2 separate regions of the Homo sapiens genome follow, and region 2 is linked to region 1. A link means that fine-mapping ties the variant in region 1 to the expression of a gene that starts in the linked region. Tissue or cell type: whole blood. Region 1 holds a variant in brackets; the other region holds the start of a gene. All regions are shown on one strand. Distances are between the middles of the regions. Region 1 overlaps KAT2B (lysine acetyltransferase 2B). Region 2 holds the start of SGO1-AS1 (SGO1 antisense RNA 1).

Region 1 (5,537 bases):
CCTTTCTGAGATGCAAGTCAAAACCACAATGTGATACTATCTCACACCAGTCAGAATGGCTATTATTAAGAAGTTAAAAAAATAACAGATGTTGGCAAAGCTGTGGAGAAAAGGGAATGCTTATACACTCTTGGTGGGAATGCAAATTAGTTCAGCCCCTGTGGAAAGCCGTTTGGAGATTTCTCAAAGAATTAAAAATAGAATTACCATTCCACACAGAAATCCTATTACTGAGCATATACCCGAAGGAAAATAAATTGTTCTTACAAAAAGATACATGTGCTTTTATGTTCATTGCAGCGCTATTCACAATAACAAAGACATGAAATCAATTCAGGTGCCCATCAAAGGTAGATTGGATAAAGAAAATGTAGTACATATACACCATGGAATATTATGCAGCCATAAAAAAGAACAAAATCATGTCCTTTGCAACAGTGTGGGTTTAGCTGGGGCCATTATCCTAAGCAGATTAACACAGGAACAGAAAACAAAATACTGCATGTTTTCTGTTATAAGTGGGAGCTGAACATTGGGGATATATGCTCACAAAGATGGGAACAGTAGACACTGGAGTTTCCAAAAGAGGCAAGAGAGGGAGAGGAGTAAGGGTTGAAAAACTACCTGTCAGGTACTGTGCTCACTACTTGGGCAGTGAGATCATTAGAAGCCCAAACCTCAGCATCACACAGTATACCCATAATACCCCCTGTATCTAAAATGAAAACAATAAATTAAAAAAGATCTCTTCTCCATACTGATTACTAGAGGTACAGAGAGCTTAGGACGCCTCCCATTCCCATTAACAGTCACTTCTCAGGAGCCCACAATCTTTAAGGTGCTACATGAGGTGAGTGGAAGCCATCTGTAGGTCATTGCATTTGAGAGTCCCTTGGTGAAGAGAAGGAAACTTTCAAATTGAAACAGTCTTCAGCATATTCTCTGAAGGTGTCGATTTAAGAGATTGCCCTTGGGATTCTTTTTTTTTTTTTTTTTTTTTTTTTTTTTTGAGACAGCGTCTCACTCTGTCACCCAGGCTGGAGTGCAGTGGCATGATCTTGGCTCACTGCAAGCTCTGCCTCCTGGGTTCGCACCATTCTCCTTCCTCAGCCTCCCGAGTAGCTGGGACTACAGGCACCCGCCACCATGCCCAGCTAATTTTTTGTAATTTTTAGTAGAGAAGGGGTTTCACTGTGTTAGCCAGGATGGTCTCGATCTCCTGACCTCGTGATCTGCCCACCTCGGCCTCCCAAAGTGCTGGGATTACAGGCGTGAGCCACCAAGCCCAGCCAGGTTTCTTTTTTCTTTTTTTTTTTTAAGATTTGGACTTATAATAAATAAATGGACTTAAAATAAATAAATGGAAAGCACCCATCTAGATCAGCCTTGTCAAAAGTAGCAGTCACTAGCCACATGTGGCTACTGAGGACTTGATATGTGGTTAGTCAAAATTAAGGCATGCTGTAAGTATAAAATCCTCTGATTTTCATTTCTTTCTTTTTCTTTTTTTTTTTTTAAGAGGAAGTCTCGCTCTGTCACCCAGACTGGAGTGCAATGGCACAACCTTGGTTCACTGCAACCTCCACCTCCCAGGTTCAAGCAATTCTCCTGTCCCAGCCTCCTGTGTAACTGGGATTACAGGCGTGCACTACCATGCCCAGCCCATTTTTTGTATTTTTAGTAGAAATGGGGTTTCACCGTGTTGGCCAGGCTGGTCTCGAGCTCCTCACCTCAAGTGATCCACCCACCTCGGCCTCCCAAAGTGCTGGGATTACAGGTGTGAGCCACTGCACCTGGCCAATCCTCTGATTTTCAAGAGTTCATATGAATAAAGCAATGTAAAATATCTTACACTTTTTTCCAATTGTATGTTACAATGACATTTTAGATATAATGGGTTAAATGAAATACATTATTAAAATCAATTTCACCTGTTTCTTTTTGCCTTTTAAAAATGCGGCTAGTAGAAAAATTTAAATTACATGCGTGGCTTGTATTATGTCTCTATTGGACAGCACTGATCTAGATTTACTAGGAATATACTTTTACTAGTCCCATTCATTTTATGAAGTTATTTGTTTAACTGTTAGGATTACATATTCATGCTGCAGTATTTACCAGCTATATGTTTGAAATCAATCAGGAAGTAGATTTTTTTGTTTTCCTTTGTGAATGCAATTAGTGATTTCTATTGTTTTGTTTCGTTTTTCCAAAATTTCGTTATGATATGTTTAATTTCCGGATGGGATTTTTTTAGTTTTTTTTTTTTTTTTTTTTTTTTTATTAAAGG[G/A]ATAACCTCACTGTCTTGGAAGTAGTTACCTCAGCATATTAATAATTATTTTACAAAACAAACAAAACATCTCTCAAAATTTCTCAGTCAGTGTGATGGCTTATGTCATGGTTGTGTTGCTTTAATAGATGATACTTTAAATTGCATTATTCTTTTCTTTCTTCTCATGACAGCCTACTATTATAGAGCTGCTTTTTTGATGCAGCCAGAATAGGTTGGAGGTCCAGCCTTGAAAAATTTAAATAGTAAAGCTTTAACAACTGTAGGCTTTTGGGACTTTCTGGGGCCCGTTTACCTGCTTCTCTAGTCCGAAGGGAACAGTTCCTAGTTATGGGAAGTGAAGAGGTTCTGTCACTTGACTGAGTAGTGAATGCTCAGGGCTGCTTTCCTGTAATTCTGGCAGAGCCTCCTCAGAGAAGCAGGGCAAAATAATTGGCTCTTATGCTACAGATGACAAGTGGGCCCTAGGGGCTGTGTGTTTTCTCAATATTGGCTTTTCTGGATGTCAGGGACAAGTAACTCAAAGATGTTTTTGTGAATGTCACTAAATAGACATGGTATAATATAATCTGTTCATTTCTTACTTGTTAAATAGCATTCACCCCTTTCTCCCATCTTATTTCATAAAAAAGACTGTTTTGTTAGGAAAACATTTCATTAGGTTGACTGACTTGAACTGTATCCATAGACTTCTTTCCCTAAACACATTTCCTTCCTGTGCTTTACAGATAATTAAAAAACTGATTGAAAGAAAACAGGCACAAATTCGAAAAGTTTACCCTGGACTTTCATGTTTTAAAGATGGAGTTCGACAGATTCCTATAGAAAGCATTCCTGGAATTAGTACGTATAGACCTTCTTTTAAAAGCGAAATTTTTTAGTAATGCCGTGGTTTGTGTTTGAAACAATTTCCAGAATGCAGTAACTTCGAAAGCTTTATTGCCCTGCCCGTCTCTGTGTTATCTCTAGTCTTTTAAGAAGGCAGCAAATGTTACCCTTTTATGTCTTCCCTACCACCCAATACAAACAAACCAAAGGGAGCTTAGATGCCCCCTTGTAATAGCTGTTAATATCCACCACTTAATGAGTCTGCCATTTGTAGCACAGTGCGAATTATTACACATATGCAACCTTGAAAGCAGGGAATCCTATTTTATAAATGGGGAAATCGAGTTCCAAAGCAGTTAGATCATTTACTGTTAAAGGGCACATAGCCAGTAACGGTCAGAATTAGAAGCAGCCCAGTTCTGATGGCCGAACACCTTACTGTTTGCACCATGTCTCATTGCCACCATGGTTGCAGCCTCCAAGATCTGTGCTTGACTAGTCTCCCCAAACTTCTAAAAAATACTATTTGTTATGTGTGGTGGAAATCATATACCTTGTTTCATATTCCCTATTTTACAGTAGTTTTCCTAAGGGTTCTTGTCTGTATGTTAGAGTTGAGTTGTGTTGGGTTAAACCATACCAAATAGTTGTTTTTATAGGTCAAAAGCCATTGAATATCATTGGCAATTTTGTTCAGTTCAAATCCAGGTTCTTTTTAGTATATTTAAGCTTTAATAAACAAAATCAAACAAGCAAAAATTTTCCAGAAAAAATAAGATGTTATTTGGACAAGATATATCACTTTATTACATGTGCCCTCTGGCAGATCTTACTTTTATGCTAAATCCAGAAATTCTACTTCCATGTATTATCTCTATTAATGACATAATAGCAACCATATCATTGAATGCCTACTTGTGCCACGCATTTATCTGTTTTTGTTTTTTTTTTTGTACATTAACTACTCTCAACAGGGATAAAACCACCTAATTTTTAGGGTTCTGTTTTATAGATTGATAAACTGAGAGGCAACTTACTCTTATTTAGGGTGAGTTACCTTTTAAGGAAAGAACAGGAAATCACATCCAGATCTGTCAGACTCCAGGCTGTTTTCTATCTGCTACACTAAACTTTCTTGCATTACAAGCAGGGCCTTAGCCAAATAGAACAGAGACCAGGACAGAGTTTGTTCTGACCTAAAATAACAGCTTAACTCTTTTACAGGGTGATCAGCCCAAAATTTGACTTTCAGTTTAAAAAATACACAGGCCCACAGTACTGTACATATTTATTTTTTATGCTCTCCACTGAAAGGTTGGTGTTCCTGCTTTAAAACACTAACATATGGGGCAGCGTTGTTAGTCTTGGAAATGTTTTATATTGTTAGTGGTATAAGGAAGTAACTAATTGCCATTAATTTCAGTCGTCTCTCAGAAGTAGACTTTTATTGTCATGCCTATAATTTCTTGTTTTTGATAAGTATTAACTATGTTATTCTCTTGACCAAAAGCACTTCTCATTCAGTGTTTCACTTTGTTGACGTATAGGAGAGACAGGCTGGAAACCGAGTGGAAAAGAGAAAAGGTAAGTATGACGGGCAAGAGGATGTTAATGGAAGTGATTTTTTTTTTTCCCCACCAAGCAACTTAAAGAAAAACGGCAAACTAATTGTAATCACTAACACAACAGTTGGTGGGTTTTGAGTTTCCTAAAACATTCTGGAATGGTTCCAATTTCAGGTTTTTGTAAGAATGAGCTGAATAGTAATCAGCTGGCAATAGGGTAAAACTCTAATCATTGCTCCTTGTTTCCCTTTTTCCTTTCAAGTAAAGAGCCCAGAGACCCTGACCAGCTTTACAGCACGCTCAAGAGCATCCTCCAGCAGGTGAAGGTGGGTGTCCTCTTTATTCACCTCATGCAAATATTTTGAAATGATTTCCCACATGGAATTTCCATATTAGATACCTTACTTTTTTCTTTACCCAAGAGCCATCAAAGCGCTTGGCCCTTCATGGAACCTGTGAAGAGAACAGAAGCTCCAGGATATTATGAAGTTATAAGGTTCCCCATGGGTAATACCATTAACATTTTCTAAGTATAGATTTAAAACTCTGGATGGCGGTGTGGGGGACAAATGGTTGCTGAGGTTGATTTGTACTCCTCTGCTTAGGGTAGGAAGTGTATGACGGGTGGTGGGATTCCATGCACCGTGGCGGGTCAGTGATGGCAGAGAAGTGGGTGGCTGTGTTCATTAGAGACATTCTGCAGCTGTCGTTTAGAGCCCACATGAGCTTAACGACACTAGACGCAGAAAATCCACGGTAACTGCAGACAGCACTAGATTTGAAAGCTGGCACTTTAGATATAACTTTGCTTATATTCTAACTCTTTGGTGCAAATAGAAAAACATCAGCTTATC
Region 2 (5,000 bases), 28 kb after region 1:
GTATACTAAGAGCCATATGCTCCAGTGTTATCTGGGTTTTATAGTCTGTCCTTTTTGTTCCCACATAAATATACTGTACTGTATTAATTATTCCAACTTTCAGTTTGAGAAATATGTTGTTTGGAACAATATCAGATCAGTTGCTATATTCTGGAAAAATGCTTCTCAAACTTTAATGTGTATATGAATCCACAGGAGGACTTCTTAATGGCCAGGCACGGTGGCTCACGCCAGTAATCCCAGCACTTAGGGAGGCCGAGGTGGGCGGATCACCTGAGGTTGGCAGTTTGAGGCCAGCCTAACTAACATGGAGAAAGCCTGTCTCTACTAAAAATACAAAATTAGCTGGGCGTGGTGGCACATGCCTGTAATCCCAGCTACTCGGGAGTCTGAGGCAGGAGAATCGCTTGAACCCAGGAGGCGGAGGTTGGGATGAGCTGAGATCGTGCCACTGCACTGTAGCCTGGGCAACAAGAGTGAAACTCTGTTTCAAAAAAAAAAAAAAAAAAAAGATGCAGATTCTGACTCCACGGTATGGGGTATGGCCTGAGATTCTGCATTTCTTAAAAGACGTCTAGGGATTAAACTCTGAGTAATACCATTTTAGAGTATATTTTTTTCGTTTAAAAACGTATTTTTTATGTATTTTATGTATTTTTATGGATACAGGCTCACACATCTGTAATCCCAGCACTTTGTAAGGCCAAGGCAGGAGGACTGCTTTAGCCCAGGAATTTGAGACCACCCTGGCAACACAGTGAGACCTCATCTTCACAAAAAGTAAAAAAAAAAAAAAAAAAAAAAAATTAGCCAGGTGTGATGGCGCATGCCTGTAGTCCCAAGTACTGGGGAGGCTGAGGTGGAAGAATCACTTGAGCCTGGGAGGTTGAGACTGCAGTGAGCCATGACAGTGCCACTGCCCTCCAGCCGAGGTGATAGAGCAAGACCCTGTCTCAATTAAAAAGTGAACAACAACAAAAAAATCCCAACTTTTTCTGGACATTTTTAAATGTACACAAAGATGGCAATAACAGTATAATAAACTCTGAGTTACCCAGGTCCAATAATTATCAACACTTTGACAATCATGTTTGATTTATTCTAACATCATTATAGCATTTTTGCTTTTTTTTTTTTTGAGACTGAGTTTCGCTCTTGTTGCCTAGGCTGGAGCGCAATGGCATGGTCTCGGCTCACTGCAACCTCTGTTTCCTGGGTACAAGCAATTCTTTTTCTCCTGCCTCAGCCTCCCGAGTAGCTGGGATTACCGGCACATACCACCAGGCCTGGCTCATTTTTTTGTATTTTTAGTAGAGATGGGGTTTCACCATGTTGGCCAGGCTGGTCTTGGACTCCTGACCTCAGGTGATCCGCCCACCTCAGCCTCCCAAAGTGCTGGGATTACAGGCGTGAGCCAACCCGCCCGGCTTACAGCATATTTTTAAAAAAGATACTTGCCTGCTACCACTGACTAACTGGCCGATTTAGAAAGTTGGTTTGGTTTTTAAGGTTTTAATCTCCTTACAAACAAAATAAGCATCATAACACCTATACTTCACAGAATTGTTCTGAGGATCAAATAAAATGATGTGACAATATTTTGAAAATGATACAACTTGACTATAAATGTTAGTTTTACTTGTATTAACTAAAATTGCCAAATGAGAATCTTTGTGGACAGGTGTAGGTTGTATTACGAACATTTGAACTATGCCTACTTTTGATCTAATAAAATATTTTCTGAGCCAGTTTTTAGAGATGTCGTACAAAAGAATACTAAGCCTATCAATTGAGGAAATCTTCACTAACTAGAAGATTATTTTAAATCACGGTTCCTGTCAAATTTAATATAAAACAAGGCCATTAAAATAACAAGTCACTGGATTCAAATTTGATTTCACTTTCAAGGGGATACTTCAGTTAAGTGTATAAAAGCTACTTCAATTCAACCTAAGTCTACAAAAAAGTCCCTCTGTCCCCTTGGGAGTCCTAATTTACTGAAAATAAAAATTCTGTCTCCATAACAAGCAATCTCTGAATTAGGTCAGAGCAATACAACTGTGATTTCCACACCCAGCCCCCCACTGTTTAATCAGACCATAACTTCCACCAAAGAGAGACAGATGGTAAGTCTCCAACCTCCACCAGAGAAACAGATGGTAAGTATAGTATATAAGCATCAGGAGTGATCATTTATCACGAACATTAAAAATACAGGTAAACAAGTAGATCACTTACTGGTAGGAGTTTTTGTTGGCTTAGAACCCTCCGTCTCTTTTTCATCTGTGTATTTCAGTGCTCTTTTAGCTAGAGGCCTGGTGACTGGTCTATCTGAATTGCTCGTGGGATTCTGAATGTACTTGCAAGTGGGCAAATAGAGGTCATCGGAATCATCTCCTGAACCACTTGATTCACAGAGGCTCACTTCAGACTCGTTGTTTTCTTCTCTATTAGAGTCATTGCTCACTTTTTGTCGGAAAGGAGTAAGATGAACACCCTCTTCCAAATTAAAATTGTAAGCATCATTGGAACTGACAGATTTGTGCATTTTTTTTTGGGGAACAGTTTTTTTATTTTCGCTTTTATTCTCTTTATATTTTGACATACGTTTTGATTTTCTCCTGTTAGCTTTTCTTTTCTCTTCTCTTTTTCTTTCTTGTGTATCTCTTTGCTTACTTTTAGTTTGTTCAGATTTAGATTCTAAAATGTCTTCTTTTGTTTTAGTAAACGTTCCTGGCTGAATCAGCTTTGGTGATAAGTTAACTTGGTCCTTGCTCCATTGACAAGCATTGTGTTGTACATTTTCAGGTATGTGCATGTTTACTAGTGGGTCTAAAAATCCAACTCTTTCGAATTCAAAAGACTTCCCTGCCAAATGACTGGTTTCAAAATCATCCAAGCTATCAAACTGACATATACTGTTACAATGTTTCTTTAAACTGCTACGAACAGATACAGTTCTAGGTAAGACATTATCAGTAGACTTAGCTTCACCTGAATCAAAATCAACTCCCAGTGTGTCTTGAGGAATAGTAGGTATCTGATCTGAGAATTTAAAAAATAAATGAGAAAAGTAGTTTTACTTTGTGGAAATTTGAATTTCAAGAACTTTAGAATTCAAACTAAAAAAGTGAATGACCAAAAGGTCATTCTGTAGTTTTCCTACATTATAAAATCTGTAAATAAAAACCTGGGAACTTAAATATTACCATCTATTTACTTGTCAGTGATCAACTGATGGCTTATATCTGACATGTGAAAGAATCTTGTACAGGTTCAGTATCCCTAATCTGAAAATCTGAAATCCAAAACTTTTTTAGTGCAGTCATGATGCTCCAAGGAAATGCTAACTGGAGGGTTTTGGATTTCAGATTTTCAAATTAGGGATGATGAACTGATATAATGTAAATACTCCAAAATTTAAAAAATAAATCCAAAACACTTCTGGTCCCAAGCATTTTGGATAAGGGACATTCAATCTTTATAATCTTTAAAAACATTATAGGCCAGGCACGGTGGCTTACGCTTGTAATCCCAGCACTTTGGGAGGCCGAGGCGGGCAGATCACGAGGTCAGGAGATCGAGACCATCCTGGCTAACACAGTGAAACCCCGTCTCTACTAAAAAAAATACAAAAAATTAGCCAGGCGTGGTGGTGGGTGCCTGTAGTCCCAACTACTCGGGAGACTGAGGCAGGAGAATGGCGTGAACCCAGGAGGCAGAGCTTGTAGTGAGCTGAGATCGCACCACTGCTCTCCAAGCCTGGGCGACAGAGCAAGACTGTCAAAAAAAAAAAAAATTATAACAGGCTTTTATGTGCTCTTGGTTTAAAGAAAATGAATAGTCTATATGTATCATTGAGTACAGATTCAGAGAAGTAGAACCGCATATTCCAAAGTGGGACAAATGAGAAAGTGGGAGCTAAGTTGTTCTTTGAAAAATAAATAAGATTTGAATAACTAGAAAGCTTCTCAGGTAAGAAATATAATTTGTATTTTAAGGAAAAGTGGGGCTATGTCTGGTTTTGCTTATTCAAATACTATCCTTCCTTCGACGTCTGGTTTTGCTTATTCAAATACTATCCTTTCTTCAATGCTTGGTTCAAGTGGAGGAGATTGACACTTGAGAACATGGACATATCAATTTAAAAGTAGTAAGAAAGGGATGGCTTTGGAGTTCAACTTTGATTTTAAATGCTAGCTGTTAACATCTAGACTTCTTCATGTGAGATATTTTACCTTCTTGAGTTCCTATAAAACAGGACTAACTGTACTTATAGTCCTAGGTTGTTGTGAGGGTTAGGTGAGATTATGCACATAAAATGCCTAACATAGAGCTTGACACGTAGTAGCAATCAGTAAATTGCTGCCATAGTTATAGCCAAAGATTCAGATTACAGATTTGACACAATAAATATATTTTAACACTCTATTACTCTGTGTAAAATAAACAGATTTGCTTTGAGCAGAATACCAGATGAACAAATTTAAAAAGTTAAAAAAAAAGAATTAGATAAATTTAATTGTATTATTTGTTCTCAAAGACCTTATTTTGCCCTTAATAATATTTTTAGATTTTCACTTGAATTACCTTCTATTTGAAATGATTCTCCTTGTCCTGGAAGTTCAGTTTCTTCAAGAGGAATTTGCCTTAGAAAATACCAATGAAAAACAGAAATTTAACAATTATGTAATAAAAACAAATTCAGTATTTTCCTAAATTATAATTTTTCTTTCCTTTAGTATCATTTCATAATTCGATTTCAAATCAATACATCTATTCTGTATCAAAGGAAACCAAAGGACACTTATGCTGATTACAGGGAGACTGATTTGTTATGACTGACATTCAATTCCCACTTGAAGAACCAACCTATCAAGTTGGAGAGTTCCACCTGAAAACACATTATATAACTCAATTTAACTACGGAAACAGCCCATGAGAATTAATTTGTTAAATGTTTTTTAAAAAATGTAGTTTGATCACTCAACTCTTTAGGA

The links. PIP is the estimated chance that this variant, and not a neighbour inherited with it, causes the effect. A credible set is the group of variants that fine-mapping cannot tell apart.
Region 2: SGO1-AS1 starts here. The variant in region 1 is the best candidate, but not a certain one, in a credible set for the expression of SGO1-AS1 in whole blood (TOPMed, PIP 0.90).

The regions. Positions count from the first base shown.
Region 1 is chr3:20,143,298-20,148,834 of GRCh38, forward strand. KAT2B (lysine acetyltransferase 2B) reads left to right here. Exons shown (of 18, transcript NM_003884.5): 14 at 3,019-3,133; 15 at 4,666-4,702; 16 at 4,946-5,009; 17 at 5,106-5,190. Among named protein-coding and RNA genes, the nearest start is that of MIR3135A, 8.5 kb to the left of the region's middle. The variant G/A (reference allele first, on the strand shown) is at 2,291.
Region 2 is chr3:20,172,011-20,177,010 of GRCh38, forward strand. It overlaps SGO1-AS1 (SGO1 antisense RNA 1), which reads left to right and starts at 2,276. Exons shown (of 4, transcript NR_132785.1): 1 at 2,276-2,515; 2 at 2,725-2,808. SGO1 (shugoshin 1) reads right to left here. Exons shown (of 8, transcript NM_001199251.3): 5 at 4,591-4,649; 6 at 2,239-3,045.